Linked DNA regions of Homo sapiens. The protein of the gene in region 6 interacts with the protein of the main gene of each other region in a pairwise test. Each region holds a gene or a part of one and is shown on either strand. Other genes may lie near its edges.

The links.
Region 1: the proteins of RUSF1 (region 6) and FAM209A interact in binary tests that used the Homo sapiens proteins (3 or more experiments, as listed by UniProt).
Region 2: the proteins of RUSF1 (region 6) and ITGAM interact in binary tests that used the Homo sapiens proteins (3 or more experiments, as listed by UniProt).
Region 3: the proteins of RUSF1 (region 6) and GPR42 interact in binary tests that used the Homo sapiens proteins (3 or more experiments, as listed by UniProt).
Region 4: the proteins of RUSF1 (region 6) and FKBP7 interact in binary tests that used the Homo sapiens proteins (3 or more experiments, as listed by UniProt).
Region 5: the proteins of RUSF1 (region 6) and GJA8 interact in binary tests that used the Homo sapiens proteins (3 or more experiments, as listed by UniProt).
Region 7: the proteins of RUSF1 (region 6) and HTT interact in binary tests that used the Homo sapiens proteins (3 or more experiments, as listed by UniProt).

The regions. Positions count from the first base shown.
Region 1 is NC_000020.11:56,523,261-56,527,502, forward strand, and holds FAM209A (protein FAM209A precursor), read left to right. Parts: upstream 1-1,483; 5' UTR 1,484-1,548; coding exon 1,549-1,797; intron 1,798-2,522; exon of another isoform or gene 2,523-2,543; coding exon 2,544-2,810; 3' UTR 2,811-2,892; downstream 2,893-4,242. UniProt on the Homo sapiens protein: May play a role in sperm acrosome biogenesis.
Region 2 is NC_000016.10:31,318,634-31,322,983, reverse strand, and holds part of ITGAM (integrin alpha-M isoform 2 precursor), read right to left. Parts: intron 1,744-4,350; coding exon 1,613-1,743; coding exon of another isoform or gene 1,609-1,612; intron 1,521-1,608; coding exon 1,357-1,520; intron 1-1,356.
Region 3 is NC_000019.10:35,369,619-35,374,312, reverse strand, and holds GPR42 (G-protein coupled receptor 42), read right to left. Parts: upstream 3,246-4,694; 5' UTR 3,195-3,245; intron 2,965-3,194; 5' UTR 2,954-2,964; coding exon 1,913-2,953; 3' UTR 1,351-1,912; downstream 1-1,350. UniProt on the Homo sapiens protein: G protein-coupled receptor that is activated by short chain fatty acids (SCFAs), such as propionate. Hence may play a role in the regulation of whole-body energy homeostasis and/or in intestinal immunity.
Region 4 is NC_000002.12:178,471,623-178,475,972, forward strand, and holds part of FKBP7 (peptidyl-prolyl cis-trans isomerase FKBP7 isoform a precursor), read right to left. Parts: intron 2,346-4,350; exon of another isoform or gene 2,233-2,345; intron 1,521-2,232; exon of another isoform or gene 1,407-1,520; intron 1-1,406. UniProt on the Homo sapiens protein: PPIases accelerate the folding of proteins during protein synthesis.
Region 5 is NC_000001.11:147,901,001-147,906,144, reverse strand, and holds the start of GJA8 (gap junction alpha-8 protein), read right to left. Parts: upstream 3,351-5,144; 5' UTR 3,284-3,350; intron 1-3,283.
Region 6 is NC_000016.10:31,501,254-31,505,603, forward strand, and holds part of RUSF1 (RUS family member 1), read right to left. Parts: intron 1-4,350.
Region 7 is NC_000004.12:3,238,681-3,242,418, forward strand, and holds part of HTT (huntingtin), read left to right. Parts: intron 1-137; coding exon 138-298; intron 299-1,165; coding exon 1,166-1,379; 3' UTR 1,380-3,738.

The DNA.
Region 1 (4,242 bases), on a different chromosome or scaffold from region 6:
TCAAGCTAGCTGTTCCTTTTTACTTGGGGGATTCAGCCCCTTCCCATTTTACCCACCAACTCTTAATCATCTCCCCTGCTCTACTCAACCATCTTTTTCTGGACACTCTTCCTGCTTCCTGCATAACCTAGTTTAGAGCAGTCCCCTTATGCTAGTCTCTAAAGCTTCCTGTTCTTATCACAATTTTAATCAAAGTATACTCTCTCTCTTTTTTTTTTTCTTCCTGAGATGGAGTCTCACTCTGTTGCCCAGGCTAGAGTGCAGTGGTGCGATCTCAGCTCACTGCAACCTCTGCCTCCCAGGTCCAAGTGATTCTCCTGCCTCAGCTTCCCAACTAGCTGGGCCTACAGGCCTATGCCACCATGCCGGGCTAATTTTTGTTTAGTAGACATGGGGTTTCACCATGTTGGCCAGGCTATTCTCCAGCTCCTGACCTCAGGTGACCCACCTGCCTTGGCCTCCCAAAGTGCTGGGACTACAGGTGTGAGCCACCACACCCAGCCCAAAGTATACTCTTAACCCAGGGTGGGCACACACTGCTACGATCAATGATGGTGTGAGGTAATAGTGAGTGGTGGGGACTGTGGAGGGAATATGGCCACCGAAAGGACGGTTTCACTTGGCTGCAGCAGAGAGACTGGTTCCATGAGGGTGTGCACTCATTGTTTCTGGACCTCCCATATTTTCAAAGGAAGCCAGAATGTGGAGTTTTAAAGTGAAATGCCCCCCAATATTTAAGTACTGACAATTTTTAAAAACAATGTAGGCCAAACAAAACACATAGGTGGGCCGGGCGCAGTGGCTCATGCCCGTAATCCCAACACTTTAGGAGGCCGAGGCAGGTGGATCACCTAAGGTCGGAAGTTAGAGACCAGCCTGACCAACATGGAGATACCCTGTCTCTACTAAAAATACAAAATTAGCCAAGCGTGATGGTGGATGCCTGTAATCGCAGCTACTCAGGAGGCTGAGGCAGGAGAATGGCTTGAACTGGGAGGCGGAGGTTGCGGTGAGCTAAGATCATTGCACTCCAGTCTGGGCAACAAGAGCAAAATTCCGTCCCCAAAAAAAAACAAAAACAAATTTTTTGTTTGTTTAGTTTGAGCCACATAGGTGGCTCCAAATTTGTAGGTAGCCTGTGGTTTAATATCTTTCTCTCCCGTTTAACTCAGCTCCACGGGGCACATGGCATCTCCCTCTGCTCATCACAATGTCTGGATCAAACAAATGAAAAACAAAAACATGATGGCCTCTCCCAGCAAAGCTCCAGGGTTGGAAAGAGTCCCCTGGCAGGGAATTGGCACCCCGTCGTGCCCATCCTCTCTCTCTGACTGCCTGCTGGAAATGCCCCCATCTCCCTTTGAGTCCTCCTCCCGGGCAACCCCTGTGACCTGTAACCTCTGTCCTGAAATCATCACAATGGCCAGAGTGGCCTCAGCTCAGGGCCTCTGTGACATCACCAAGGGCCTGGCACCAGGTGCCCAGTCTCCCAGTTGCGAGGGCAAGCAAACCCGTCATGAGCAACTCCCTTCCCCATCTCTGCTCACCATGTGGACGCTGAAATCGTCCCTGGTCCTGCTTCTGTGCCTCACCTGCAGCTATGCCTTTATGTTCTCTTCTCTGAGACAGAAAACTAGCGAACCCCAGGGGAAGGTGCAATACGGAGAGCACTTTCGGATTCGGCAGAATCTACCAGAGCACACCCAAGGCTGGCTTGGGAGCAAATGGCTCTGGCTTCTTTTTGTTGTTGTGCCGTTTGTGATACTGCAGTGTCAAAGAGACAGTGAGAAGAATAAGGTAAGGATGGCTCCATTTTTTTTACACCATATTGATTCAATCTCAGGAGTCTCAGGGAAACGGATGTTCTAGTGAGTCTAGACGGCACCGTTGGGTATAATGAACCGACCTCATGGTCCTGGGCAAAGCTGGCAAATTCACTTCCTGATGTATCCTTAGTGAAGACAATTGTCCCCAGATCCACAGATACTGGGACAAAGAGTGGAAAGTGACCTCTGCTTACTGGCTCACAGATTTTCTGGTTAGATGGATTTTTTCAAATGTAGGATAGATTCAAGAACTTATGGTGTGTTTCAGAAAGTCAAAATTATTCACAGGGCCAGATTCACTAGCCCCTGTTTTTTAAATTCTTGCTAGTGTTTGACTTACTACAAAATCCTGAGCTAAATGGAAATGATATCATTATCCCAACAAAATATGAGACTTGTGCTGAAGAGATAAAGATGTAAGGTAGTTTGAGCTGGTCCTCAAAGTGACCACAAACAACTCTTTCAGGTAGAAAAGGAAGGGGAGAGAAAGTGCGTTCTCCCCTAGAAAGACCCAGCACTTCATAATCCTGTGCCCAAACTGATGAGAGCAGGGATCGGCAAACCCTTCCCGTAAAGGGCCAGGGAGGGTGCGAATATCTTCAGCTTTGTGGGCAGTATGGTCTTCTTGCAACTACTCAAGTCTGCTGTTGTAACACGAACTGTGTCAAAACCAACAAAGTTCACAATATTACTGACCTTGAGTATCTTTCCTGACAGGAGCAGAGTCCTCCTGGCCTTCGAGGCGGCCAACTTCACTCTCCATTAAAGAAAAAAAGAAATGCTTCCCCCAACAAAGACTGTGCATTCAATACCTTAATGGAACTCGAGGTGGAGCTTATGAAATTTGTGTCCAAAGTGCGGAATCTTAAACGTGCCATGGCAACAGGTAGTGGCAGTAACCTCAGGCTTCGAAAGTCAGAGATGCCTGCAGATCCATACCATGTCACGATCTGTGAAATATGGGGAGAAGAAAGCTCTAGCTGAATGGATTTGTGTGTCAGGAGAGAAAAAAGTTGAGTGTTGACAAACTGTATGCAAACTAATAAAACTATTCTGAAGAAAAGAACTTCCATGTTTGAGAGCTTGCTTCTTTTCTTTTTTTCACTAGAAGAAAAAGTGAATGGGAGACCAGTAGCCATAGCAGTGATGGTTTTGTTTTTGCCTCTCTCACGTCATCTAGAGCTGTGGGTGGTGAGAAGAACACCGAAAGCTACATAATAGTACGTGATGAGCTCGTGCTTCTGTTCAATGGCCGCGGGTGGACGATGGAGCTAGGGAAATCTGGGATAAGATGCTGACGTCACTTCCATACAAACTCTTGCTCTCTATAGCATCTATTTGTGCAAGATGCAGAACTGCTTTTTATCTTTGATTTATTACAAAAGACAGCATTAATGATAGTTTTAAAATGGTAAAATGATTCAATTAGGAGGGGTGTATTCTAGAGTTATCTGATTCTCTCACCACAAGAGTCCTTTCACTCATTCCCTGTCAAAGGTTCCGTGTATATTGACTTTTCCTTCTACCACACTAGCAGTTACATTTGTCAATAATTGGATTTAAAAAAAAAAAAAGGGGGATGAGGCAGGAGAATCGCTCAAACCCGGGAGGCAGAGGTTGCATTGAGATCGCACCGCTGCACTCCAGCCTGGGTGACAGAGCGAGACTCCATCTCAAAAGAAAAAAACAAAAAGGAGAGGCCCGGCATGGTGGCTCACACCTGTAATCTTAGCCCATTGGGAGGCCGAGGCAGGAGGACTGATTGAGCCTAGGAGTTTGAAACCACCCTGGGCTACATAGTGAGACCCCATCTCTATTATTTTAAATTAACAAGAAAACGGAGAAAAATTCATTCATCCTATGCCATTGGAGTTTTGGATACAAGTGTGCTAACCAGGGGCTCCCAGATTAATTGACATGTTCTTTATCCTACTTATTCAAAATGTGGATATTTTACATGTTACTGTGGCTGATGGCATCTCTGTACATACTTAGGTGCTTGCCTAATGGTGATTTCTATTTTCCTCTCTCCTACAGTGTTTATTGATTGGAATTCTGCTGTAAGAAGAGCTGTTCCTTCGCCGATGATTGATGGATGGGTTTCTGTATGGACTTACAGGTGTGTTTTTTTTTTTGGATTATTTTCTGGCTCCACCTTTCCCACCTTTGGCGTTAGGAGCTGCTTCGGGTTGGCACTTGTGTTCTGTGAGCAAGCCCCTTCCTCTTTTGAGCAATTCCTTACTTTCTGGCAACCCAAGATGCTCCATGCTCATCTGGTTCATTGCCTGCCTTCATCCTGGAATCAGCCACTTCCCCAAGGGGCCAGGTTCCCTTTCTTGGAGAATGGTGACCTGCCCTCCTGCAGCCAGGATCATGACTTATCTTAAAATCCTTCATTTAATTCATCTGCAAAATG
Region 2 (4,350 bases), 180 kb from region 6:
ACCATATCCCACACATCTCTTATGGTGTTTTTCTGTATTTTTCTTTCTTTTTATCGCATATTTATCCAGATACTTTCAAATGACTGTCTTCTTGTTCACTAATTCTCTGTTCTGCTTCTAATCTGCTATAAATCTATTTACTGAATTCTTCATTTCAGTCAGTGCGATTTTTGGTTCTAGAGTTTCCATTTGACTCTATTTTATGAATTCCAGGTTTTTGCTGAAGTTCTCATCCTTTCCCTTTTTTCTTGAAGATATTAATTATAGTTACCTTTTAAAAATTCCTATCCAATCACTCTAATTTCTGAATCACCTGTGGGTCTATTTCTATTGTATATTGTTTCTCTTGGTTGCTAGTCAGTTGTCTCAATGGAAAGACCAAGGTATTTACCAAGGCCTCTCAAATCTCTGTCTCCCCAGCACTGAGGAGCTGCTGAATTCTCTGATCAGCTCTTTGGCTTTTCAGTTGCTGTTTTCTACTGGGTGTCTTGGAGTACTGACCTAGGCATTCGTGTCTTAAGAGTCAGCCAAAGAGTAGAGGGGGACTTCTATGTAGGTTTAAGGGTACCTCTTCTTCAATTCCCTACTCTCTAACATTTTGCTCTTAATTTCTAGCCATGCTGGCTGCTCTCATATCTGGAATGCTATCTCCTCAGCACAGGAAAACTGTTCCTAGAAAGGTAATCATTTTTTAGGGATGGGTCTTGCTATGTTGCCCAGGCTGGCCTCAACCTCCTGGGCTCAAGTGATCCTCCCCTCCCACCTCAGCCTCTCAAGTAGCTGAGACTACAAGAACATGCCATCATGCCTAGCTAATAATTTTACTTTTAAAGAGGGTACAATTCTTTCTAGTACTGTCATTACTAGAGACAGTTATTCCTAGTGCTGTCACTACTAGAGACAGTTATTCTTAGTATTGTCATTACTATTCTCCCACCCCAAACACAGTTCTACTCTTTGAGAATAGGAACAAGGGAAGAAGTCACTGGTGATAAAATGCGTATGTGAGTGCTTTGTAAATCTCTGTTTAGCTTCATCAATTCAATCTCCCCAAATAGGTTTTCTCTCCGTTTATTAAAAAACAAAAACATAGTTTGTTCACAGGCATGGGGCCTTCAGTTCTCTGGAGAACTGAGTGAGTAAGGAAGTGCCACATGCTCACCTCTTTAGGGAGGTCCACTGGACTTCCCTACCCAGCAGGACAATAGCCTGCTCACTCAGGTAAGGCTTGGAGAAGGTTGTCAGAGCCTGTGAGAACTCAGTTCAGGACAGCCAGAAGGCTGGGCAGAGTGGATTGCAGCACCCATTCATGTCCTCGGTCGTTTAACCTCTTGAGACTCATCCACCAAGCCTCACCTTCTCTTAGCCGATCCCGTGTGCTCTTCTGGACATGGAGGCAGACTCTGACCTCTCCGGCTTCCTTGCCTTTCACCACCTGATCATTACACTCAAATACATTCCTTGCCACTTCCCTGGGATTGAACTCCATGATTGCCTTGACTCTCAGTACTGGCTGGGACCTAAAGGGACACCAGAAAACCATCAGGGACCTTCAAACAGGAAACATTCCTTCAAGGGAGAATGTCCGGTTGACTCCAAAAGGCATTCTCACCTGAGCAGCAGCACGTGCCCCTGGGCTCCTACAGTCAGGTCTACCAGTCCATCCATTGTGAGGTCCTGGCCCCCACTCAGTGACTGACCAAAATACTGGAGCCTGGGAGAGAGCTTGGAGCCTGCTATCCGCTGAGGGTAAAAAAGAGGTGTGGAGAGAGAAAGGGGTAGGAAAGACAGGAGATGTATAACTCAGTCATCCAGCATGGCCCAGACAGAGGTTCTCTAAGCTCTACTCAAGTCTCATCTCTTGCAACTAACCAAGGAACTAGGACAGCTTAGAACTTATCAAGGAATTATTCACCTTTAGACCACAACCTCAAGAGGATACCTACAATTTCTTTTTTAAAAAAACTTTTAAAATAAAAACGGGGGTCTCACTTTGTGGCCCAGGCTGGTCTTGAACTCCTGGGCTCAAGCGATTCTGCCCTGTCAGCCTCTCAAGTGCTAGGATTATAGGTGTGAGCCGCCACGCCCAACCCCAATTTCTATTAATTACCTGCATTTCCCTGCATACAGGGAAAAGTAAAAGTATATTATTTGGCTCAGCTGAATTTCATTTACGTAGTCAGAATAATGCAAACACTGAATGTTGATCTAAACAAAATGATCACATAAACATGAGGCGTGAATGGGGGGTAAAAGAGTGCTACTATGTGGCAAAAGGAAAACTGAAAAAGAGATCAATCTCCACCTTCCATGGTGGGAAGTCAGTGGTAAAACAAAAATCAAAAAGTAGCAAAATTATTATTATGTAATTGGAACAAATAGAGAATTGAAAGAGCTGAAAGTGGTTCCCTCAAGAGCAAGGGAAATGAAGCCAAAACCATCGTGTATGTGGAAATTGTTGTTTTTTAATAGTGAGCTTTTTGGAACTATTTTGACTCTTTAAAGTATGTGCAAGAGTAATATTGAAAAAAATGACAGCCAAATAATAAATTTTAAAGAAATTTTAAAAGTGATTTTGTCATGTCCTTAATGCAAGTGAATTGGACACTTTTAATTATGGTATAAAAGTTATAAGACAAAGATATTAAAAATAACTATAGCTAAAATTATGTTACTGGATACACAATATAAATAACTGTAAATTGTGAATCAATAACGTAAAACGTGTAGTGGGGAATAAAAGTATAGAGTGCATGTGATTTAAGTTCAGTTGTTATCAGCTTAAAATAGACCATGATAATTATGAGATGTTTTGTGGAAACCACAAAGAAAATACCTTTAGAAGTTATATACACAAAAAAAGGGTCAGACGCGGTGGCTCACGTGGCTTACACCTGTAATCCCAGCACTTTGGGAGGCTGAGGTGGGCGGATCACGAGGTCAGGAGATCAAGACCATCCTGGCTAACGTGGTGAAACCCCATCTCTATTAAAAATACAAAAAATTAGCCAGGAGAGGTGGTGGGCACCTGTAGTCCCAGCTACTCGGGAGGCTGAGGCAGAAGAATGGCCTGAACCCGGGAGGCGGAGCTTGCAGTGAGCCGAGATCGCACCACTGCACTCCAGCCTGGGTGACAGAATGAGATTCCGTCTCAAAAAAAAAAAAGTACAAAAAGAGAACAAAATGAAAGCATATTAATACAAAAATTAACAACAATAAAACACAAAGGAAGACAGCAAGAGAAGAAAAGAGGGACAAAAGACCTACATGACTAACAGAAAACAATTAACAAAATGGCAGTAGTAAATCCTTCTCTATCAATAATTACTTTAAATGTAAACAGAAGCAAACTCTCAAAACAGAGTGGCAGAATTAATAAAAATACAAAATCCAATTATATGCTATCTACAAGATACCCACTTTGTATTTACTGACACATAGGCTAAAAGTAAAGGAGTAGAAAATGCTATTCCATTAAAATGGTAACCAAAAGAGAGCAGGATGACATGCTAATATCAGACAAAATAGACTTTAAGTCAAAAAACAAATAATGATATTATATAATGATGAAATGGCCATTTCACCAGGAGTTACAACAATTAATTATATACACACCCATCAGACATCTGAATATATAAAGCTAATAATGACAGAACTGAAGGGAGAAATAGACAGCAATTCAATAGTAAGAAACTTCAAAATCCTACTTTCAATAGCAAATAGAACAACTAGACAAAAAAAAAACCCAAGGGAGAATGGACCAAATGGACTTAACAGACATATACAAAATACACAAGCCAACTACTGCAGAATATACATTCTTCTCAAGTGCACATGGACCATTCCCCAGGACAGACCACATGTTAGGTCACAAAACAAGTCTTAACAAATTTGAAATGATTTAAATTATATCAAGAATCTTTTCCAACCACAATGGAATGAAACTAAAAACAATACCAGAAGAAAAACTGGAAAAAAACATACATATGTAAAAATTAAACAATACACCATTGAACAACTAATGGATAAAAAAATAAATTAGAAAATAACATGAGATAAATGAAAACAAAAACACAATATACCAAACTTAATGGGAGGCAGCAAAAGCAGTACTAAAGGAAAGTTCGGGATAAACACCTAATTTTAAAACAAAAAGACAAATTTCAATTACAAAACCTAACTTTACACCTCAAGAAATGAGAAATAAAAGAACAAACTAAACCTAAAGTTAGTAGAAGGAAGAAAATAATAAAGATTACAGAAAAATAAATCAAATAGAGAATAGAAAAAAATCAATGAAATTAAGTTGATTTTTCAAAAAGATAGAATTGACAAGCTTTGGCCAGGTGC
Region 3 (4,694 bases), on a different chromosome or scaffold from region 6:
CTCTCTTTCTTTCCTTCTTTCTCTCTTTCTTTCTTTCTCTCTCTTTCCTTCTTTCTTTCTTTCCTTCCTTCTTTCTTTCTCTCTCTCTCTCTTTCCTTCTTTCTCTCTTTCTTTCTCTCTTTCTTTCTTTCCTTCCTTCTTTCTTTCTTTCTCTCTCTCTCTTTCTTTCCTTCTTTCTCTCTTTCTTTCTTTCTCTCTTTCCTTCCTTCTTTCTTTTCCTTCCTTCCTTCCTTCCTTCCTTCCTTCCTTCCTTCCTTCCTTCCTTCCTTCCTTCCTTCCTTCTGTTTTTTGAGACAGAGTCTCACTCTGTCACCCAGGCTGGAGTGCAGTGGTGTAATCTCGGCTCACTGCAACCTCTGCCTCCTGGCCTCAAGTGATTGTCCTGCCTCAGCCTCCCAAGAAGCTGGGTTTACAGGTGCATGCTGCCATATGCGGCTAATATTTGTACTTTTAGTAGAGACAAAGTTTCACCATGTTGGCCAGGCTGGTCTCAAACTCCTGACCTCAAGTGATTCTCTTGCCTCGGCATCCCAAAGTGCTGGGATTATAGGCATGAGCCACTGCGCCCAGCCAGTTTCTGTCTTTGTAAAGGGCCACAACACATAAACCGACAGTGTGTTGGTTGCACTGAAATTGCATAAGCAGGCAGAGGAATGTGCTGTGTAGGAAAGATGTATATCCAAAGAGGCTTCTGAAGGGGACAAGGATGTAAAAAGTTGAAGAGATCCTGCATTAGCTAAGATCGAGGAGCATCGGGTGCCCACTGTGAGTCACCTGCCCAATCATTGACTCCAAGTATCGTAATCTATACTTTTCAAGAAGTCTTCTTTACTGGGGAGAGGATGCACTCACACAGATACTCACTGTGCTTTGCATTTACTTCTGTTCCTTATCACAGCCTGTTTGCATTTGTCCTGCTCAGACAGCCTCATCTGACTGGGCCAGGTGACCACAGGTGACACACAGATGGAGAACAGCAGAGTGGCTTAGGGGCATGGGTGTCAGAGTCAACTGACACCAGCTTCTGGTCCCACTTCAATCGCCCACCAGCTATGGGATCTCGGGTAGGAGATGTCACCTCTCTGGGCCACTCCTTCATCTGAAACTGGGGATAATGCTGGTACCTCTCACAGGGCTATTGAGAGATAGAAGGAGATGATGTGTCAGGCCAAGTCCTTTAGACAGGGCAGCTGTTATTTTCATCCCTGCAAGCCAGATCCTCTCCCAGCATCCAGGCATCCTGGTGTTTGGCCCTTTTCCTCCAGAGTCTGGTGTTTTCTCCTTCCATCCACCAGTCCCACCCGGCCCAAGCACACCACCAGAACAAAACAGGAGAAGAAGGAAACACTGTTCTCTTTTGCTTGCTTCCACATTTATTTGGGTAATTTTTCTTCTGTCATTGTTCATAAATGTCTCTGATGATCCACATTTATTGAGCAATGGGAACTTTCTGGAAAAGGCACTGTGGGAGCAGAATGCGGCCTCATCCCTGGAGCCCTGTCTCCCCCGCTCCTGACTCGCTGGCTGGGAGCAGCTCTGAGGATGGGGTTCTCCCCTCTCCTGCCCCTGCCACTCACTGGGCAGCCCCCTCAGACCTGGGCACTGCTCTTAGCTCCTCTGCCACCCTCAAGAAAACACAGGAGCTGCCTGCTGCTATGAGGACCTCATTGTTCTCCAGAGCAGCCTCTCACCCTGACCCCTTCCCAGAGCCCAATCCATAGTGTGTGGGTGGATGGGGATGGAGGTGAGATCGAGAGCTGGGCTTTAGCGCGCATACCCTTAGGGAGGCTAGATGTCTACTCTGCCCCCAAGCCCCATCGGGCCCCAGCTCGCCACTCCAAGTCCCTCCTGGCGTGAGCGAGGAAGCGCCCTGAGGATGACACGCCAGCTACACCCTCCTCCCCCGGAGGACCTAGTTTTCAGCACAGGCCACCTGGCCACCAGTTCCACAGCCCTGTGAGTGTTCACTGGTCTTTCTTTCAGCTGGTCGGTCCGCTCTCTGCTCCTCCCCTCCCTTCTGCTCCTTCAGCTCCATGCTGCTCTCCTGCTGCCACTGGCCCCAGAGCCCACACAACCTCCTCAGCAGCTCATGAAAGTCGGCTTGGAACCCGGAGGAGGAGAAGTAGTAGACAAAGGGGTCGACACAGGAGTTCAGGGTGCTGAGAAGCGTCACGTAGATCCTCCACACCGGGCTTTCACCGCAGATATAGCCCACGACATGGGACACGTTGTAGGGCCCAAAGCAGACAAGGAAGTTGAGCAGCGTGGCCGCCACCAGCCCCGCCACCCTCCTCTGCCGGCGGTGGCTGCCCCCTCTGCCGAGGATCCACACCAGGCGGCTGTAGCAGTAGCTGGTGATGATCAGCGGGACCACAAAGAGGACCACAGCCATCTCCAGCCGCACGGGCAGGAGGATGGCTAGCTGGTCCTTCCAGAACTCCAGGTAGCAGGTCCCATTGGTGCCCTGGCTGTGGGAGATGTCCCCTGAGAATTCTATGACGTAGACCACGCTGCAGTGAGCAGAGGCCAACAGCCAGCAGGCCACACTCACCAGACCTGCCTGCCCCAGCCTCGGCCGGGTCTTGTACCACAGTGGGTGGGCCACACTCAGGAAGCGTTCAATGCTCACAGCTGCCAGGAAGAGGGCGGTGAGATAGATGGTGGTGAAGAAGATGAATCCAGAGAGTGGGCAGAGGATGAAGGGCAGGGGCCAGTGCATGCCATTGGCTGCCTCCACCATGCGGAAAGGCAGGAACAGCAGCAGGAGCAGGTCCGAGGCGGTCAGGTTGAGCAGGAGCACGTCCACGGCCACCGGGCGGCACCGCAGCTTGCCCACGAAGACCACCAGGGCCAGCAGGTTGAGGGGGAGCCCCACCAGGAAAGTGAGAAGGTACACCGAGAAGACGAACCAGTGATTGCCGGAGAAGTAGGACTGGTCGGGGCCTGTATCCATGGTGGTGGCCACTGGTGAGAGAGAGTAACATGGAGTTGGTAGTGGGGGCCCTAACGGCCTCTGGCCAGCAGCATCTCCCCTAAAAGGGCACGAGGTCACTACGCCCACCCCTCTTGTCTCTGGGTGCCTTCCAGGCGGGGTCAGCCTGCCTGTCTTCCTGAGCATGCCCTGTCCCCTGTCCCTTCCCCAGCAGAGAAGCACCAAGGTGCTCCTCCACCCAGCCCCTCGGGCCCAGGCTCACCTGCTTCTTTGAGACCCCAAATGCTCTGCCGCACAGCACCTTGCTGTCTCTCCAGACCTAGTGCAGTTGGCTATTTATCCGGCAGAACTGATAAAGACCTGGCCGTGCCCATGACATCACTCACTGTTGAGCAGTGGCACAAAGATGCCTTGAGCTCCGTTGCCAGGGCTGGTCAGTATGCAAAAAGGGGAACAAATTCCACAACTGCGTGCCTCCCTCCTTGCGCAGCCTCAGCTGGGATGCTCCAAACAGGCCCCAGCTGACGTCTTCTTCCCCTCCCCTCTCTTCCACTTGAATTTTGTCTGATTCTCTAGAATGGCACTTATCCAGTTTGCCTTTTAAGGGCACAAAGCATGAGCCAGTGACAGACTGGACTCCGTGAGGTCTGTTCCTTCCTGACTTTGTGATGTGGGGGAAGAGATGTGTCTCTTCTTCCTCCCCTACAGAACAGGGATTGTCATAGTACCTGTACCATATTTCAAAGCATGAACACATGCAGATTAAAACATATATACAGGTAGATTAAAATGTTAATAATATAGGTCAATTGCTTTTTGAAAATATTTATTTTAGATTCGGGAGCACATGTGCAGGTTTGTTACATGGGTATATTGCATAATACTGAGGTTTGGGCTTCTATTGAACCCATTACCAAAATTGTGAACATAGTACCCAATAGGCAGTTTTCCCACCCTTGTCCTCCGCCCTCCCTCCCCCACTTTGGAGTCCCCACTGTCTATGGTTTCCATCTTTAATGTTTGCGTGTACCCATTGTTTACCTCCCACTTAAAAGTGAGAACATACAGCATTTGATTTTCTGTTTCTGTGTTAATTCACTTAGGATCATTCACTTAGGCCTCCAGCTGCATTTATGTTGCAGCAAAGGACATGATTTCATTCTTTTTTATAGCTGCATAGTATTTCGTGATGTGTATGTACCATTTTTTCTTTATCTAGTCCACCATTGATGGGCACCTAAGTTGATTCCATCACTTTGCCATTGTGAATAGTGCTGTGACAAACATACACATGCAGGTGTCTTTTTGGTAGAATGATTCCATTTTATGAAAAATGACATTGATAATTTGGTAGGAATTGGGTGGAATCTGTAGATTGCTTTGAGCAGTATGGACATTTTAATGATATTGATTCTTCTAATCCATGAACATGGAATGTTTTTCATTTATTTGTGTTTTTTAGTTCTCCTTGTAGAGATCTTTCACTTTCACTTCCTTGGTTAGATGTATTCCTAGGTATTTTATTTTTGTGTGTGGCTATTGTAATTGGGATTCTGTTCTTTATTTGGCTCACAGCTTGACAATTGTTGGTATATAGTAATGCTACTGATTTTTATACACTGATTTTGCATCCTGAAACTGCCAGTCATTTATCAGGTCTAGGAGTATTTTGGAGGAATCTGTAGGGTTTTCTAGGTATAGAATCATATCATCAGTGAACAGAGATAATTTGACTTCCCCTTTCTATTTGGATGCCTTTTAT
Region 4 (4,350 bases), on a different chromosome or scaffold from region 6:
GTATATTGCCAGTGTCCTACACAGTGCCTAATCTACTACAGGCAGTCCAATATTTGCCGAATGAATGACCCATATCATTTATTTTTAAAATGTTTGTCCTTGGAAGGAAACAGCAATTTCTTTAATAAAAAAGTGAAGCATTCTAGCTAAAGTCTTTATATAGTCTGAAGAGAAAAGAGTTTGTGAGTTATAGCCAAAAGGAGTAGCAGATTAGTAGTTTTCAAAGAGAAAACATAGAAAGATCTACCCATGCATCATATGACTAACATAAAAGTCCTAACCTAATGCACCACATATTACCTGACTTTAGAGTAGAAGAGCTAGAGATTGAGTCAATGATTGTTTTATAAAACCCATTCCTATTTTTTCCAGTTATCTCCTTATGACAGAATTATTGTCTCCTGACAATAATTCAAGGCAAACTCAAAACACAAATTCAAATTTCTTTTCTTTTCGTTTTTTTTTTTTTTTGAGACAGAATCTGTTCTGTTGCCCAGGCTGTAGTGCAGTGTCGCGATCTTGGCTCACTGCAACCTCCACCTCCCGAGTTCAAGTGATTCTTGTGTTTCAGCCTCCCAAGTAGCTGGGATTACAGGCACAAGCCACCACACCCAGCTATTTTTTGTATTTTTAGTAGATACGGGGTTTCACTATGTTGGCCAGGCTGGTCTTGAACTCCTAGCCTCAGGTGAGCCACCCACCTCGGCCTCCCAAAGTGCTAGGATTACAGCTATACGCCACTGTGCCCAGCCCAAAACTTGAATTTCTTAAGAAAAAATATTGTAGGTACATATGCAGTTTTTGAACAATTTTGCTATAAACATAGAAAATATTGGCCGGGCGCAGTGGCTTATACCACTTTTTTTTTTTAGACAAGAATCTTCCTCTGTCACCCAGGCTAGAGTGCAATGGCGCGATCTCGGCTCACTGTAACCTCTGCCTCCCAGGTTCAAGCAATTCTTATTTGGCTTATACCACTGCGCCTGGCCAGGAGGGCGAGATCAGCCTGGCTGGCCAGGAGTTCGAGACCAGCCTGGCCAACATGGCGAAACCCCATCTCTACTAAAAATACAAAAATTAGCCAGGCATGGTGGCGTGTGCCTGTAATCCCAGCTCCTCGGAGGCTGAGGCAGGAGAATAGCTTGAACCCGGGAGGCAGAGGCTGCAGTGAGCCAAGATCAATCACACCACTGCGCTCCAATCTGGGTGACAGAGCAAGACTCCATCTCAAAAAAAAAAAAAAAAAAAAGGATATATTGCCAATTACCTCTTTTTCTTGTTTTTTTTTTTTTTTTAAAAAAAACTAAAGTATAAAAATGAGGAAAATATGCATTTGCTACGGAATTACTTATATTTAGAGAAGCAGATCAAAGAAGTAGGAATTAAGGTAAAGAATATATACATACCGCATGTATTGTTATTTAAGCACTAACAAGTCACATGCATTTCAAGACATGCAGGGTTGTTCTGTGACATGAGACAAGGATATTTTGCAGAAGAAAGACTTCTTCAAGTACTACCTAAAATAAAGTTATAGCTAATGTTAGGTCTTAATAACAACTTACTTTTAAATGCTTATTTAATCAAGAGGTTGTTTGTTAAACAGTTACTTAAGGTCTACACTGCAACTTTTAAAATAATGTAATCCAAGGTATTGGATTACAATGCCTAATGTAACGCAGGCAAGGTCAGTATTAACTATGGTCCAATTAACACTTTTTTTGGGCCTCAGTTTCTTACTCTGTAAAATGAGGGTGCTGGTGGTATTACTAGTGAGATTAATCACTTTAATGTTTGTTAGAGATACCTCCAATTGAATATGAACTTGTTTCACATCAAACTTCTATATCTCTGCAGCAAGTTTCTGATTTATTAAGAGCTTAGGCAGCCTGGGTAGTCATTCATATCTAAGCATAAATTAGTTTATGAAAAAGATAAGCTAAGTGGTCCTTTGCCTGATGGCGGTGAACCCTGGATGAGCACCTGATGATGACAGATGTGTGTGCTCTAGGCAGATAGGAGAGTGGGTGCTCTAGTGGTAGGCAGAATGTGGAGGCATCTGAAGACACAACGCAAGACAGAAAGGAAAACTTTGAAAATGAGAAAGAGACTGAAAGGCAAACTCTGCCTCCAACATTTTGCCTAGAAGTGGCCTCAACTTTTGACAACATTTTTAGCACAAGTATTGCATTTGACTTAATTTATTTTCAATTTTCCTTCTCTTTCTCCTAGGTTCCTATACAAATAAAAACAGGATATATGAATTATGGTACCATGGGAGCTGTTCTGATGGGATCAAATTATTGGCAAAAAGCATTAAAAATAAAGCTGAAGTTATCTGGAAATTGTCTCTTTAGGAGTTTTAAGCCTGACTGGGTCTGACTCAAAGCACTGACACCCCCCCACCACCCGCCAATCCAGTGTGGGGCACTGATGCCCCGATTTTGCTGGAAAGAACTCTTAATGACTAAGACAACTGCCTCAAAGAAGGCATGCCACTTCCATGAAATATTTGGGAGCAATGCCAATATCTCATTGTGGAAAATTAATCTTTACTATTTCAAACCGGTGGAGTCAGCAGTGGCTCTAAATAGGGTAAGGAGGCAAAGATTCTTTCTGTATAGCCTTCAAGCAGCAACACGGAGCAAGAACCTAACTAAGGATGCAAGGTACAGCCTATCAGGCTGCCCATCCTCCTGCCTGCTTTAAAAATTTTCTTCTCTGTTCTGCTACATGCAATTTTTGTAATTTAAAATTTTAATTTTGGAAAAATTAATACATGCCTTATAAAACTTTCAAATGGTACAAAATGTTAGAGTGAAAAGAAATCTTCTCATCCTTGACCCTGAGGCCTCCTTCCCAGGAACACTTAATGTCATCAGATGACTGCATATTCTTCCAGATGTATTCTGTGTAGATACATGCATATGTGAAACTCCTCCTCTGAAATGAAAGCTCATAGAGGATTGGGAGTAGTGTCTACTTTGGTCACTGCTTTATGCCCAGTGCCTAGAACAAAGCCTGGCACTGATGCTCAATATATATCCCAAAAGTGGAATATAGTCTTGTCCACTTTTTTTTTTGAGCCAGGGTCTTGCTGTGTTGCCCAGATTGGAGTGCAGTGGCACAATCACAGCTCACCGCAGCCTCGACCTCCCAGGCTCCAGGGATCCTCCCATCTCAGCCCCCTGAGTAGTTGGGACCACAGGCGGATACCGCCACGCCTGGCTAACTTTTTAATTTTCTGTAGAGATTGTGTCTCCCTACATTGCCCAGGCTGCTTTCAGACTCCTGGGCTCAAGTGATCCTCCCACCTTAGCCTCTCAAAGTGCTGGGATTATAGGCATGAAGCCACCATGCCTGGCCTCCACTTTATTTTTAACATATTAATAAGTATAGCTCTACTTCATTCTTTTTACTGGTTACACAGTAATTCATTGTATAGATATACTATAATTTATTTAACTAATTTCCTATTGATGGATAGGCAGGTGGTTTCCAACCTTTTGCCACCCTCCCACCCAAAAATGCCTGCAGTGAATGTTCTTTTACATATACCTTTGTGCACATTCCTGGAAATGGAACTATTGGATAAGAAGGCACGTGCATTTTCACTTTTTTTTTTGAGATGGAGTCTCGCTCTGTTGCCCAGGCTGGAGTGCAGTGGCGCAATCTTGGCTCACTGCAACCTCTGCCTCCCAGGTTCGAGCGATTCTCCTGCCTCAGCCTCCCAAGTAGCTGGGATTACAGGCACACTCTACCACACCCAGCTAATTTTTGTATTTTTAGTGGAGACGGGGTTTCACCATATTGGCCAGACTGGTCTCGAACTCCTGACCTGAAGTGATCTGCCCACTTCAGCCTCCCAAAGTGCTGGAATTACAGGCATGAGCCACCACACCCGGGCCTGCATTTTCACTTTTGATAACAGTTGATAGAGAAGTTGAATGATTTCCATTCCCAGCAATAATGCTGGTTTTTCCATGCTTTTGCCAAGTTGTTTTGTGTTTGCTAATCTGATGAGTGAAATATGATGTCTCATTTTTAATTTCTCTTTATGAATAAAATTAAGTATTCTCATAGACTTAAAGGCCATTTGTAGTTTTTTGTTAGTGGGTGCTTATTTATGAATTTGGCCCATTTCTAGGGATATGTCATTTTCATTATTGGTTAGCAAGTCTTCATACATGTTACAAACATTTTTCCCGCTTATTTGCTTTACCTAGGTTTTCAGATCTTTTTGCTGTAGGATTTTTAAAATGACAAGATATTGAAAGAATAAGATCATTTCTTGCACATTTGAAGGCTTGTCCTGTATTGGGGTAATAATGACTGACAGCCCATTATATC
Region 5 (5,144 bases), on a different chromosome or scaffold from region 6:
ATTGTTTTTTAATCACAGTGATATTTGTTAAACACAAAAGCCTATTTCCAACCTGTGATTTGGAGTCTGGCCAGACAGAACCTGGTGGCAGGATACTAATTGCAGGCATCTGCAATGTCCAGCCTGTGCTGTCAGGGCAGGCACAATAGCTGTTCGCTTCTTGTGGGAGAGCAGAGAGTGCTCCTCCTCTTGAGGCCTCATAAGCTCCCAATCAGGCAGGGCATCCTGCAGCAGCTTCTCTTCTCCTGAAAAAGTGACAGCAGCTGTGGCATCCCCAGTCATGGGTCTGGCATTGGGAAGAGTTCCTTGGAGAAATGGGTAATGGAGAGGGGGAAGGACCCAGCAGCTCGGAATCGGAACCAGCAACTCAATCCCAGCCACATGTATCTATTTTTAACTCTTCAGACTATAGTTAAGTCTAGTAATTGCCCTGGTAAGAGTGGTAGCCATTCCCATTGCCTTTTGGAAAATAGGTGGGAAACATCACAATCAGGTAAGCAGCCCAAGCATAAAGCTCACTGGTGGCAGAGCCAGGAAAAAGTTCATTTCTTATCAAATAGTTCATTCTAAAATTTATGTTAAAACAGCAATTTGAATAACTGTACTTCTATAAGATTTAGCTAATATCTTACTATCTTACTAATATCTTACTGAATCTTAACTATCTTGCTAATACTTACCCTCATTGATATATCAGTTCATTTTTGACAGTGTATTTCACTCACATACCCACATGAATGTGTGTGATGAGCACATGCTCTCAGTCCTGTATGTTAACCAATCTTGTTTTCCCCCCTTTAGTATCAAAAGGTTTTGGAGGGCAGGAACCATTTTGGCCTCATCTTTTGTGAACCATCACAACACAGAACAAAGCCCTTCACAGAGTGGGAGCTCCATAGACAGCAGTGCATGGTTCTAATAGTAATCCTTGTGAAATCTGAAATTCTCAATCCCCAAATTCCTGTAATATGAATACTAGAGACCAAGGAACTTCAGTCCTCTTGCTACAGCTAACAGCAGAAAAATTAAGAACTTGTAAAAAATGGTAAATAACAAAAAGGATAGTAAATTGATCCCCAACCAGCTGCTCTGAGACACAAAACTGCTTATTTTGTATGAGATCAAATATATAAACTGGAAGGCCAACAATTCTTGACAAGAGTGTCATGATACATGTTCATGACACAAGAAGTCGTTCCTGACCACTCATTAGTAATTTTGAAACCAAAGCCAAACAAGCCCATGTCTTTCTATACTCTAAGCCGCCATGCTAAGATTGTATTTTTTTTTAAATGTCTAGTTACAGTTTCTTGTGATAACTGAAGGAGAGAAACTGTAATTTAGGACACAATCTTTCCAACCCCATGATGTTGAAACAGGCCTACTGTGCTGTTAAGGAGAGACACTTTAGAGCTGCGAAGGGAAATGTATTGGTTTCCTGACTTCTAACAGTGAAAATTTAAAGGAAGTCAGATCAGAGAAGCAAAGCGTTCTGTGGGAGCAGGGAGAAATCTGAACCAAAGGAAGACTATTTCTCTTCTCTTTCTCAGAGATAATTCTCTGTTTTATTTTGCTTGTGAAAATTTAGTGAACAGACCTATTACAGATGGAAAATAAATGGATAGAGTTCAAGCCTCCAACCCCAGGGTGTCCATATATGGCCAGGAACATCCCACCAGAAAATGATGGCTAGAGGTAATGATTAAAATAACACCTTATGTTTGGGTATCCTTGATCTAAGTGATACATTTTCACGTATCTTATTTCAGTCCTCATAACAAGCTGTGAACTAGGCCAGTGGTTCTCAGACTTAGATTTCACAGACTAGTATAATAATAACAAACTAGTGTGACCAACATAAGGATACCAACTCCTTATTTTGCCAAACAAGGACATAAAAATAAGAGTTATTGGCTGGGCGTGGTGACTCATGCCTGTAATCCCAGCACTATGGGAGGCCGAGGTGGGAGGATCACTTGAGGTCAGGAGTTCAAGATCAGCCTGGCCAACAGGGTGAAACCCTATCTCTACTAAAAATACAAAAATTAGCTGGGCACGGTGGTGGGGCACCTGTAATCCCAGCTACTTGGGAGGCTGGGGCAGGAGAATTGCTTGAGCCCAGGAGGTGGAGGCTGCAGTGAGCTGAGATCACACCACTGCACTCCAGCCTGGGCAACACAGCGAGACTCTGTCTCAAAAAAAAAAAAAAAGAGTTATTAAATTACTAACTACAACTACAGTCTATTTTCATCATCATTTCATAAAAGGGGATTTTAACACCACAAAACTGGAGAGGACATAACTTCAGAATAAAAGACAAGCCTTTAAATTGAACACACTTAACTTGGTGAAACATTTACTACATTGTTAACTTTATCATTGTCACATTTTGGTCACAGGTTGTGGAAACCTTCATCTTGAGCTAGAACTGACAGATCCCCAGATGGATGTCTGAGAACCAGTGAACTTGGCATTATCAATCCCCATTACCAGACAAAAAGACAGGCTGGGAGGTGAAATGAGTCTCCAAGATGGGGGCTTAGCTAGTGAGGGCAGAGCTAGGCTGTGAGCCCTGGTCTTCTAGATCTAAGCCCATTACAGCATAGCCCTCCTCTGGTTTTGAAGAGGCAGAATAACACATATACATCCATTAATAAGTTATCCAAAGCGTTCAATGGCCACTTACCACTCTGGTTGGTAACCAGGTGGAAAGTGCCTCTTTTCTAGTTTCTAGAACAGCCACTAGCCAGCAGTTCTCATAGATAGACAACAGAACCTGCTCCTAGGAGGAATTTTATGGTCCTTAGCCAGATCCCTTCCTGTGCTCCATTAAATGCTCCAACATGGAAAATGCTGAGCACGAAGCCTCCGCTACCCCCACAGCATTCAGTAATTATGACTATTATTTCTATTGTAGAATTTGAGTGAAAAGGGCACAAAACTTTTTCATAAATATCAAATACTTGGTTTAGGTCCCTGTGGATTCCTGTAGACATGAAAAGAGCTTAAGAAGTCAAATTGTAGTTTGAGTTTGGACATCTCTGTTTCCCCATCCTGCTGATTATTCCAGCATTCCTCTCCCTTCCAAACCTCTGCCAGTTCTTAGGTCAACTTGAAGAGGGTTTTCAGAGTTGGAGTGTAAGTCTAGCCATCCCAGCCCAAGACTGAATCTTATTGGCAACCTTTTTCCTTTTGGAGAAGCCTATATATGGCCCTTAGATTAGGCTGAGAAAGAACAATTGGGGGGAAGGTTACAAACTAATATCACCCAAGGAAAACTTGCCAATACAAGGAGTGTCCCACGGAGAAATATGTGCTCTTTCTCTCTTGGCGCTCAGCAGCAAAATGGCAACTTTCGTCTCTTTCCTTTGCTGCCTAAAAGCCCACCTCCCACTTCTCTACCCCGCCCCTACTGTGCTGCACGACTGAGCAGATATGACTGGATTGGCCCTGATGGGTAGGTTTTACTGTCCAGCAATATTTTAAGCTCCCAGCCAGACAGCTTTTATGAAGGGAGGGATGTTTGGGAAACAATGGGAGTGAGAGAATGGGAGAGCTGTGTTGGGCACTGAGGGGAGGAGGATGGGGAAAGCTGATGTGTGAAAGCTTAGCTGGGGCTTCTGTGCCTCCCAAAGTTTCTTTTAGCAGCAGACTGGGCCTGTACATCAGTAAACCTTTGGCGTCTCTCCAGAGCGCATGAGCCTAGGGGCATTTTCCCAAGGCCTTATCATCAGCTGGGAGAATCTTAATGATGTAGGGACAGTAAGTGGTCAGTTGTGTGAATCCCTCTGCCCTGAGTCACACCAAGAGTGGTTGGTCCTTTCCAAAGGACCATATTTCATTTTTTATTGGTGGTTTGCTCTTGTCTCTCAAAGCCTTCAGCAGAATTGTGGATATTAGAGGCTGGGAAGTGTAGTGGCGGAAGGAAGGATGGGGAGCATGTTGCTAATAGATACAAAAGCACAGCTAGATAGGGGGAATGGGTTCTGGTGGTCTGCAGTGCTGTAGGGTGAATATGGTTAACATTAATTAATTAATTATTTTAATTTTTATATTTTTGTGTGTGTGTGAGACAGAGTCTCGCTCTGCCACCCAGGCTGGAGTGCAATGTCACGATCTTAGCTCACTGCAACCTCTGCCTCTCAGGTTCAAGTTATTCTCCTGCCTCAGCCTCCTGAGTAGCTGGGATAACAGACACCCACAACCACGCCCAGCTAATTTTTTTTTTTCTATTTTTAGTAGAGACGGGGTTTCACCATGTTGGCCAGGCTGGCCTCAGACTCCTGACCTCAGGCGATCTGCCCGCCTTGGCCTCCCCAAATGCTGGGATTACAAGCATGAGCGACCATGCCTGGCCGTTAACTATTTTATTGTATAGTCTCAAAAAGCTAGAGGAGAGGATTTTGATTGTTCCCAACAGAAAGAAATGATAAATGTTTGAGATGCTGAATATGCTAATTATCCTGATTTGATCATTACACATTGTATACATGTATTGAAATATCACTGTGTATCACAAATACGTACAATTATTATGTGTCAACTAAACATAAAAGGAAAGAGCTTTCTAAAAAGATCAAAACAATAAAAAAGAAACACAAACAAACCTTCAGCAGGGTGGTCTCCCTCTTTGAAAGGAGCCTTAACACTCCAAAGAATTCTGGTGCCATTTGTCAAAGTAATAGCCTTTCTCACCACGTTTCACTTATAATTACATATACTTTTGAGTAGCGGAAGTTCAATCAATGTCAGCTAACATTTTTAGACTTTAGTGCCTTCATCTGTTAAATGGGGATATGATGGTTTTGCTCACCAGGAGGCTCTTGGATTAAATTCTAATGTGGCTTAATGAGGAATGATGCTTGGAGGGCATGGACATATGCTCTCTGAGGCCCACTCCCGTCCCATCATCTGGGACTGACTATTGGTAGTATAAAAAATGGTTATTTTGACTACATTTCCAAACCAAAAATAGGGGCATTTTATCCTACAAGTTTATTCGTGAAAACAATGGAGCAAAAATAGTTGAAACTTAGATTGTTTTATGAAATCTGCAATGTATGATTACTAAATTGAAGACAACTTGGAGGGCAAACTAGACAAAAAAAATCTAAGCACTGGCTTCACCACCCCACCCCCCCTTC
Region 6 (4,350 bases):
GGCAGTTGGCTCACAGATGGCTATTATGGGATAAATAAATAAAAGGATTTAGGCTGGGTATGGTGGCTCAGGCCTATAATCCCAGCACTTTGGGATTACAGGGGGTTTGGGCCCAGGGACTGCTTGAGGCCAGGAGTTCAAGACCAGCCTGGGCAACACAGCAAGACCCCATCTCTACAAAAAGTAGGAAAGAAATTAGCCAGGCATGGTGGCATGCCTGTAGTCCCAGCTACTTGGGAGGCTGAGGCGGAAGGATGGCTTGAACTCAGGATCAATGCTGCAGTGAGCTATGATCATGTCACTGCACTCCAGCCTGGATGACAGAGCAAGACCCAGTCTCAGGAAAAAAAAAAAAAAAAAGATTTGAACTGCAGCTGGGGTTGCACGGCAGAGGGACAGGCCTCCTTAGGCTGGGCAGAGTAAGAGAAGTCTCTGGAATCAGTGGGACCTTCGTTTGCACAACAAATGCTTTCTGGCTACCTAACTCTCTCTGCCAGGTACTTCATGACCACAGTGACCAAGATGATCCCAGGGTCAAAATCCAGCCAAAGAGCAGATAACAATCAGTATAGAAAACACTGATTTAGACCAGGAATCACTAAACTGTTTCTACTCCCTGGTTTTGGAAATAAAGTATTACTGGAATGCAGCCATGCCTATTTGTTTACAGATTGTCTATAGCTGTTTTTGCAAGACAATGACAGAACTGAGTTGCTGCAACTAAGATTATAAAGCCTGCAAAGCATTAAGATCTGGCCCTTTACAGAAAAAGTTTGTCAATCTGGACCATCCATTATACAGAGAGCAGCACCCATTAAGCCTGGCAGAAATATTTTAGAACGAGACACCTGGGAGGGACTCATACAGTGGACATGGGAGAGGACAGATACCATGGGGAGAGGATTTGGACTTGTCTGAGCTTGAGGGCACTGACCCTGAGGTGGGGATGTAGGAGAAAGGACACTACGTTATGGGAATGAGGGCTGGGAGCTTCCCACGAAACATAAATGCAATGACACGGGCCAGCCCTCCCATTCTCCACTGAGAGCAGATGCATTCTCCCCTTTCCAGAGCCTTCTTGGGCACTGAGTCATGCTTGCCCACCCTGGACTTGAGGGAAATCAGTAAGCGCTCCAGTGCACACCTGAAATACCTGTGCTTTTTCATCTTCACAATGATCCTGAGACTTTGGGAGGGATCATTCCCCTTCACTAAGGCTCCCATTAAATCGGTGAATAAAATTGAGGTATTTTACAAGAAAATATGGATTTCCAGCTTCTCTGGAAGAACCTGAAGATATGGCCACACTGGGGCTGCCCTCTCTCACGGCCAGCATCAGCTGGGGCTACCTCACTGAAGGAAAGCATGGGTCCAAGCTACTGCCATCTGGCCTGCTTTGTTTCTCCATTTCTGTCCTGACTCTGGAAGTAACACCCAACAAGGTGGATTTACAGGCCTCCCATCCCTCACTTTAACCTCTTCCCTTCAAGTACATTATATTCTCGGCAAAATCATCATTGTGCCAGCCACCACACCTGGCTAACTTTTGTATTTTTAGTAGAGATGGGGTTTCACCATGTTGGCCAGGCCAGTATCAAACTCCTGACCTCAGGTGATCCACCCGCCTCGGCCTTCCGAAGTGTTGGGATTATAGGCGTGAGCCACTGTGCCCAGCTCAGACTCTATTTTTCTTCCCTTTAGCTACACACTTGTATCCACTCAGGTGTATGTCCTCCTTGGGCCACCTGACAGAAAGGGAGCCTATTCTACCTTTCCATGGATCATCAGAGGCATTTACAGGACAAATGATATATATACTCCCTAGCATCTGAGTCACTACTGTCCACTAGAATAGAAAACTCCCACTTGCTTTTTTTTCCTCTTCATTTACAACTGGCCAAGCTGTAAGATCTAGAAACATCTGAGTCCTAATAAGGAATCAGCTGACCACAAATTGTACTTGGCTCCACTTGACATTCTTAGCTGGCAAAAGAGTGTGGTAGTTAAGAGTAGAACACAGGAATAAGTCTGCCTAGGTCAAAATCATGGCCCTAAGTGACCTTGGACAAGTTACTTAAACACACTTTTGTCTCTGTTTTTCCATCTAAAAAATGAATAATGGCAGCTAACTAATATGGCTGCTGCAGAGATCAAGACACATATTACATGTAACCATACAAAATGTGTGGCTTAAGGTAGGTTGCCAAAATATTAGCAACAAGTTTTATTACTATTGCTACTCATGACAACTGGCATCACGTTCCACTGAGACAGGTAACTGAAAATGATCACATCAAAAAATCCCAAGTAAGTTTCTCAGATGAAGCTCTGCACAGAAATTTCCCATGTTTGATGAAAATGAGCTTGTAAAATCCTAATTGAGAGCTTCTTTTACTATCAATAACAAGCCTTTATTTATTTATTTTTTTAGATGGAGTTTCACTCGTTGCCCAGGCTGGAGTGCAATGGCGCAATCTCGGCTCACCACAACCTCCGCCTACTAGGTTCAAGTGATTCTCCTACCTCAGCCTCCTGTGTAGCTGGGATTACAGGTGCACACAACCATGCCTGGCTAATTTTGTATTATTAGTAGAGAGGGGGTTTCTCCATGTTGGTCAGGCTGGTCTCGAACTCCTGACCTCAGGTTATCCGCCTGCCTCAGCCTCCCAAAGTGCTGGGATCATAGGCGTGAGCCACCGCACCTGGCCAATAACAAGCCTTTTAAGTAGATTTTTCATCCTTTTTCTTTGAGACAGGGTCTCAGTCTGTCATCCAGGCTGGACTACAGGTGCCTGCCACCACGCCTGGCCAATTTTTGAGTTTTTTGTTAGAGACGGGGTTAAACCATATTGGCCAGGGTGGTGTCCAACTCCTGACCCCAAGTGATCCACCTGCCTCTGCCTCCCAATGTGCTGGGATTATAGGCGTGAGCCACGGCACCTGGCCTTTCTTTTTTTTTTTCATATCTTAAAGTGATCTTGATTTTTCTTAATAACTTGTCTGAGCTAAAGGTTTAGCGTTCCTTTTTTGTTTCAGACAGGATACTGCTCTGCTGCCCAGGCTGGAGTGCAGTGGCACTATCTCGGTTCAGTGCAACCTCCACTTCCTGGGTTCAAGTGATTTTCCTGCCGCTGCTTCCTGAGTAGCTGGGATTCCAGGCACGTGCCACCATGCCTGGCTAATCTTTGTATTTTTAGTACAGATGGCGTTTTACCATGTTGGCTAGGCTGGTCTTGAGCATCTGACCTCAACTGATCTGCCGACCTTGGCCCCCCATCCCAAAGTGCTGGGATTACAGGGATGAGCCACCATGCCCGGCCAAGGTTAAGCATTCCTAATCCAAAAACCTAAAATCTGAAATGCTCCAAAACCTGCAGCTTTTGGGAGTGCAGACACGATGCCACCAGTAGAAACAGCCGATGGTGAAATAGCACAAACTGTTCTTGTAGGGAAAAGAAAGAGATCAGACTGTTACTGTGTCTATGTAGAAGAGGAGGACATAAGAAACTCCATTTTGATCTGTACTAAGAAAATTGTTTTGCCTTGAGATGCTGTTAATCTGTAACTTTAGCGCCAACCCTATGCTCACAGAAATGTGCTGTATGGAATCAAGGTTTAAGAGATCTAGGGCGGTGCAGGATGTGTCTTGTTAACAATATGTTTACAGGCAGTATGCTTCATAAAAGTCATTGCCATTCTCCATTCTCGATTAACCAGGGGCACAATGCACTGTGGAAAGCCACAGGGACCTCTGCCCAAGAAAGCCTGGATACTGTCCAAGGCTTCCCCCTACTGAGACAGCCTGAGATGTGGCCTCGTGGGAAGGAAAAGACCTGACTGTTCCCCAGCCCGACACCTGTAAAGGGTCTGTGCTGAGGAGGATTAGGAGAGATATGCTGGCGGCAATGCTGCTCTGCTACTCTGCTACACTGAGATGTCTGGGTGGAGAGAAGCATAAGTCTGGCCTACGTGCACATCCGGGCACAGTACCTTCCCTTGAACTTATTTGTGACAGATTCCTTTGCTCGCATGTTTTCCTGCTGACCTTCTCCCCACTATCACCCTGTTCTCCTGCCGCATTCCCCTTGCCGAGATAGTGAAAATAGTAATCAATACTGAGGGAATTCAGAGACCAGTGCTGGTGCTGGTCCTCCGCATGCTGAGTGCCGGTCCCCTGGGCCCACTGTTCTTTCTCTATACTCTGTCTCTGTGTCTTATTTCTTTTCTCAGTCTCTCGTCCCACCTGATGAGAAATACCCACAGTGTGGAAGGGCTGGCCTCCTTCAGTTCTGAATCAAGGCAATCATGGTAACAGTGACAATGAAGAGGATACTGTTACCACTACAGAAA
Region 7 (3,738 bases), on a different chromosome or scaffold from region 6:
ATTCGCCAGCAGAGCCCAGCTCCTCCGCTTTAAAGCAGCAATGCCTCTGGCCCCCACCCCACCCCCGCCACCCAGGCGCAGCAGGTGCTTCCCGTCCCCCCAGCCCTGACACTCAGGCACCTGCTTGCTCCTTGCAGGTGTTTCAGACTCTGCACAGCACCGGGCAGTCGTCCATGGTCCGGGACTGGGTCATGCTGTCCCTCTCCAACTTCACGCAGAGGGCCCCGGTCGCCATGGCCACGTGGAGCCTCTCCTGCTTCTTTGTCAGCGCGTCCACCAGCCCGTGGGTCGCGGCGATGTATCCTCTCTGGGTCCCTGGTGCTGGCCCCGTTTCCCTTGTCAACACCGAGGCTCATGTTTCATGATAAGGTTTTGAAACCTAACCTTTGCAAAAACCCCACAGATGCCAGGGTGACAGGCCCTCAGCCCCAGGGAAGTAAAATGCTGACAGGGGTACAGAAAGGAGCACGTCCAGACATTTGCTGACCAGGGCCTCTCAGAGGGGCCGGTGTATGGCAGGAGGGTCGCAGCTGAGGGGCCTTTCTGTGGAGGGCCTGGGTGAGGGGAGCGAGGGTGGGCGGTGGTCTCTGCAGACGTCCCGCCCACTCGCGGGCTCTGTGTGGCTGGGCTTCTCCTGACACTGCTTCTCATTAGCTTTGGTCATTGTGCCTCGATCGCCCTCTCGGGGAAAGGCTTAAGTAAAGATCCAGTTCCCACCCCCAGATGCTGGCTGCCAGGAGTTTCCCTTTCCACAGCCCTTCCCCAAGACAGACCACAAGAGCCTCCAAGCAGCACAGTTGTCCTGGTGCTGACAGCACAGCCTTGCCCGGCGTGCCTGGCACGGCTCTGCCCTCACTGCATTGGAGCAGGGCTAGTGGAGGCCAGCGGAAGCACCGGCCACCAGCGCTGCACAGGAGCCAGGCCAGGTGAGTGCTGCCGAGTGGGTGCCCTGCCTGCAGGGCATCCAGCCAGCCAAGGGTTGCAGGAATGGAGGTGGAGGCGCTGATGCAGCTGGAGGCATCCAGGTGGCCCTTCCGGGGCTCTGCTCGCTCTCCAGGCTCCCTGGACCCCTTTGTAGACTGTTTCAGGAGAGGAACTCCCAGGTGAGGACAGGGAGGCAGCATTCCCCTCATTTGCCGGCCTTTTTCCTTAACTCCTGCACCAGCCTCCCACATGTCATCAGCAGGATGGGCAAGCTGGAGCAGGTGGACGTGAACCTTTTCTGCCTGGTCGCCACAGACTTCTACAGACACCAGATAGAGGAGGAGCTCGACCGCAGGGCCTTCCAGTCTGTGCTTGAGGTGGTTGCAGCCCCAGGAAGCCCATATCACCGGCTGCTGACTTGTTTACGAAATGTCCACAAGGTCACCACCTGCTGAGCGCCATGGTGGGAGAGACTGTGAGGCGGCAGCTGGGGCCGGAGCCTTTGGAAGTCTGCGCCCTTGTGCCCTGCCTCCACCGAGCCAGCTTGGTCCCTATGGGCTTCCGCACATGCCGCGGGCGGCCAGGCAACGTGCGTGTCTCTGCCATGTGGCAGAAGTGCTCTTTGTGGCAGTGGCCAGGCAGGGAGTGTCTGCAGTCCTGGTGGGGCTGAGCCTGAGGCCTTCCAGAAAGCAGGAGCAGCTGTGCTGCACCCCATGTGGGTGACCAGGTCCTTTCTCCTGATAGTCACCTGCTGGTTGTTGCCAGGTTGCAGCTGCTCTTGCATCTGGGCCAGAAGTCCTCCCTCCTGCAGGCTGGCTGTTGGCCCCTCTGCTGTCCTGCAGTAGAAGGTGCCGTGAGCAGGCTTTGGGAACACTGGCCTGGGTCTCCCTGGTGGGGTGTGCATGCCACGCCCCGTGTCTGGATGCACAGATGCCATGGCCTGTGCTGGGCCAGTGGCTGGGGGTGCTAGACACCCGGCACCATTCTCCCTTCTCTCTTTTCTTCTCAGGATTTAAAATTTAATTATATCAGTAAAGAGATTAATTTTAACGTAACTCTTTCTATGCCCGTGTAAAGTATGTGAATCGCAAGGCCTGTGCTGCATGCGACAGCGTCCGGGGTGGTGGACAGGGCCCCCGGCCACGCTCCCTCTCCTGTAGCCACTGGCATAGCCCTCCTGAGCACCCGCTGACATTTCCGTTGTACATGTTCCTGTTTATGCATTCACAAGGTGACTGGGATGTAGAGAGGCGTTAGTGGGCAGGTGGCCACAGCAGGACTGAGGACAGGCCCCCATTATCCTAGGGGTGCGCTCACCTGCAGCCCCTCCTCCTCGGGCACAGACGACTGTCGTTCTCCACCCACCAGTCAGGGACAGCAGCCTCCCTGTCACTCAGCTGAGAAGGCCAGCCCTCCCTGGCTGTGAGCAGCCTCCACTGTGTCCAGAGACATGGGCCTCCCACTCCTGTTCCTTGCTAGCCCTGGGGTGGCGTCTGCCTAGGAGCTGGCTGGCAGGTGTTGGGACCTGCTGCTCCATGGATGCATGCCCTAAGAGTGTCACTGAGCTGTGTTTTGTCTGAGCCTCTCTCGGTCAACAGCAAAGCTTGGTGTCTTGGCACTGTTAGTGACAGAGCCCAGCATCCCTTCTGCCCCCGTTCCAGCTGACATCTTGCACGGTGACCCCTTTTAGTCAGGAGAGTGCAGATCTGTGCTCATCGGAGACTGCCCCACGGCCCTGTCAGAGCCGCCACTCCTATCCCCAGGCCAGGTCCCTGGACCAGCCTCCTGTTTGCAGGCCCAGAGGAGCCAAGTCATTAAAATGGAAGTGGATTCTGGATGGCCGGGCTGCTGCTGATGTAGGAGCTGGATTTGGGAGCTCTGCTTGCCGACTGGCTGTGAGACGAGGCAGGGGCTCTGCTTCCTCAGCCCTAGAGGCGAGCCAGGCAAGGTTGGCGACTGTCATGTGGCTTGGTTTGGTCATGCCCGTCGATGTTTTGGGTATTGAATGTGGTAAGTGGAGGAAATGTTGGAACTCTGTGCAGGTGCTGCCTTGAGACCCCCAAGCTTCCACCTGTCCCTCTCCTATGTGGCAGCTGGGGAGCAGCTGAGATGTGGACTTGTATGCTGCCCACATACGTGAGGGGGAGCTGAAAGGGAGCCCCTCCTCTGAGCAGCCTCTGCCAGGCCTGTATGAGGCTTTTCCCACCAGCTCCCAACAGAGGCCTCCCCCAGCCAGGACCACCTCGTCCTCGTGGCGGGGCAGCAGGAGCGGTAGAAAGGGGTCCGATGTTTGAGGAGGCCCTTAAGGGAAGCTACTGAATTATAACACGTAAGAAAATCACCATTCCGTATTGGTTGGGGGCTCCTGTTTCTCATCCTAGCTTTTTCCTGGAAAGCCCGCTAGAAGGTTTGGGAACGAGGGGAAAGTTCTCAGAACTGTTGGCTGCTCCCCACCCGCCTCCCGCCTCCCCCGCAGGTTATGTCAGCAGCTCTGAGACAGCAGTATCACAGGCCAGATGTTGTTCCTGGCTAGATGTTTACATTTGTAAGAAATAACACTGTGAATGTAAAACAGAGCCATTCCCTTGGAATGCATATCGCTGGGCTCAACATAGAGTTTGTCTTCCTCTTGTTTACGACGTGATCTAAACCAGTCCTTAGCAAGGGGCTCAGAACACCCCGCTCTGGCAGTAGGTGTCCCCCACCCCCAAAGACCTGCCTGTGTGCTCCGGAGATGAATATGAGCTCATTAGTAAAAATGACTTCACCCACGCATATACATAAAGTATCCATGCATGTGCATATAGACACATC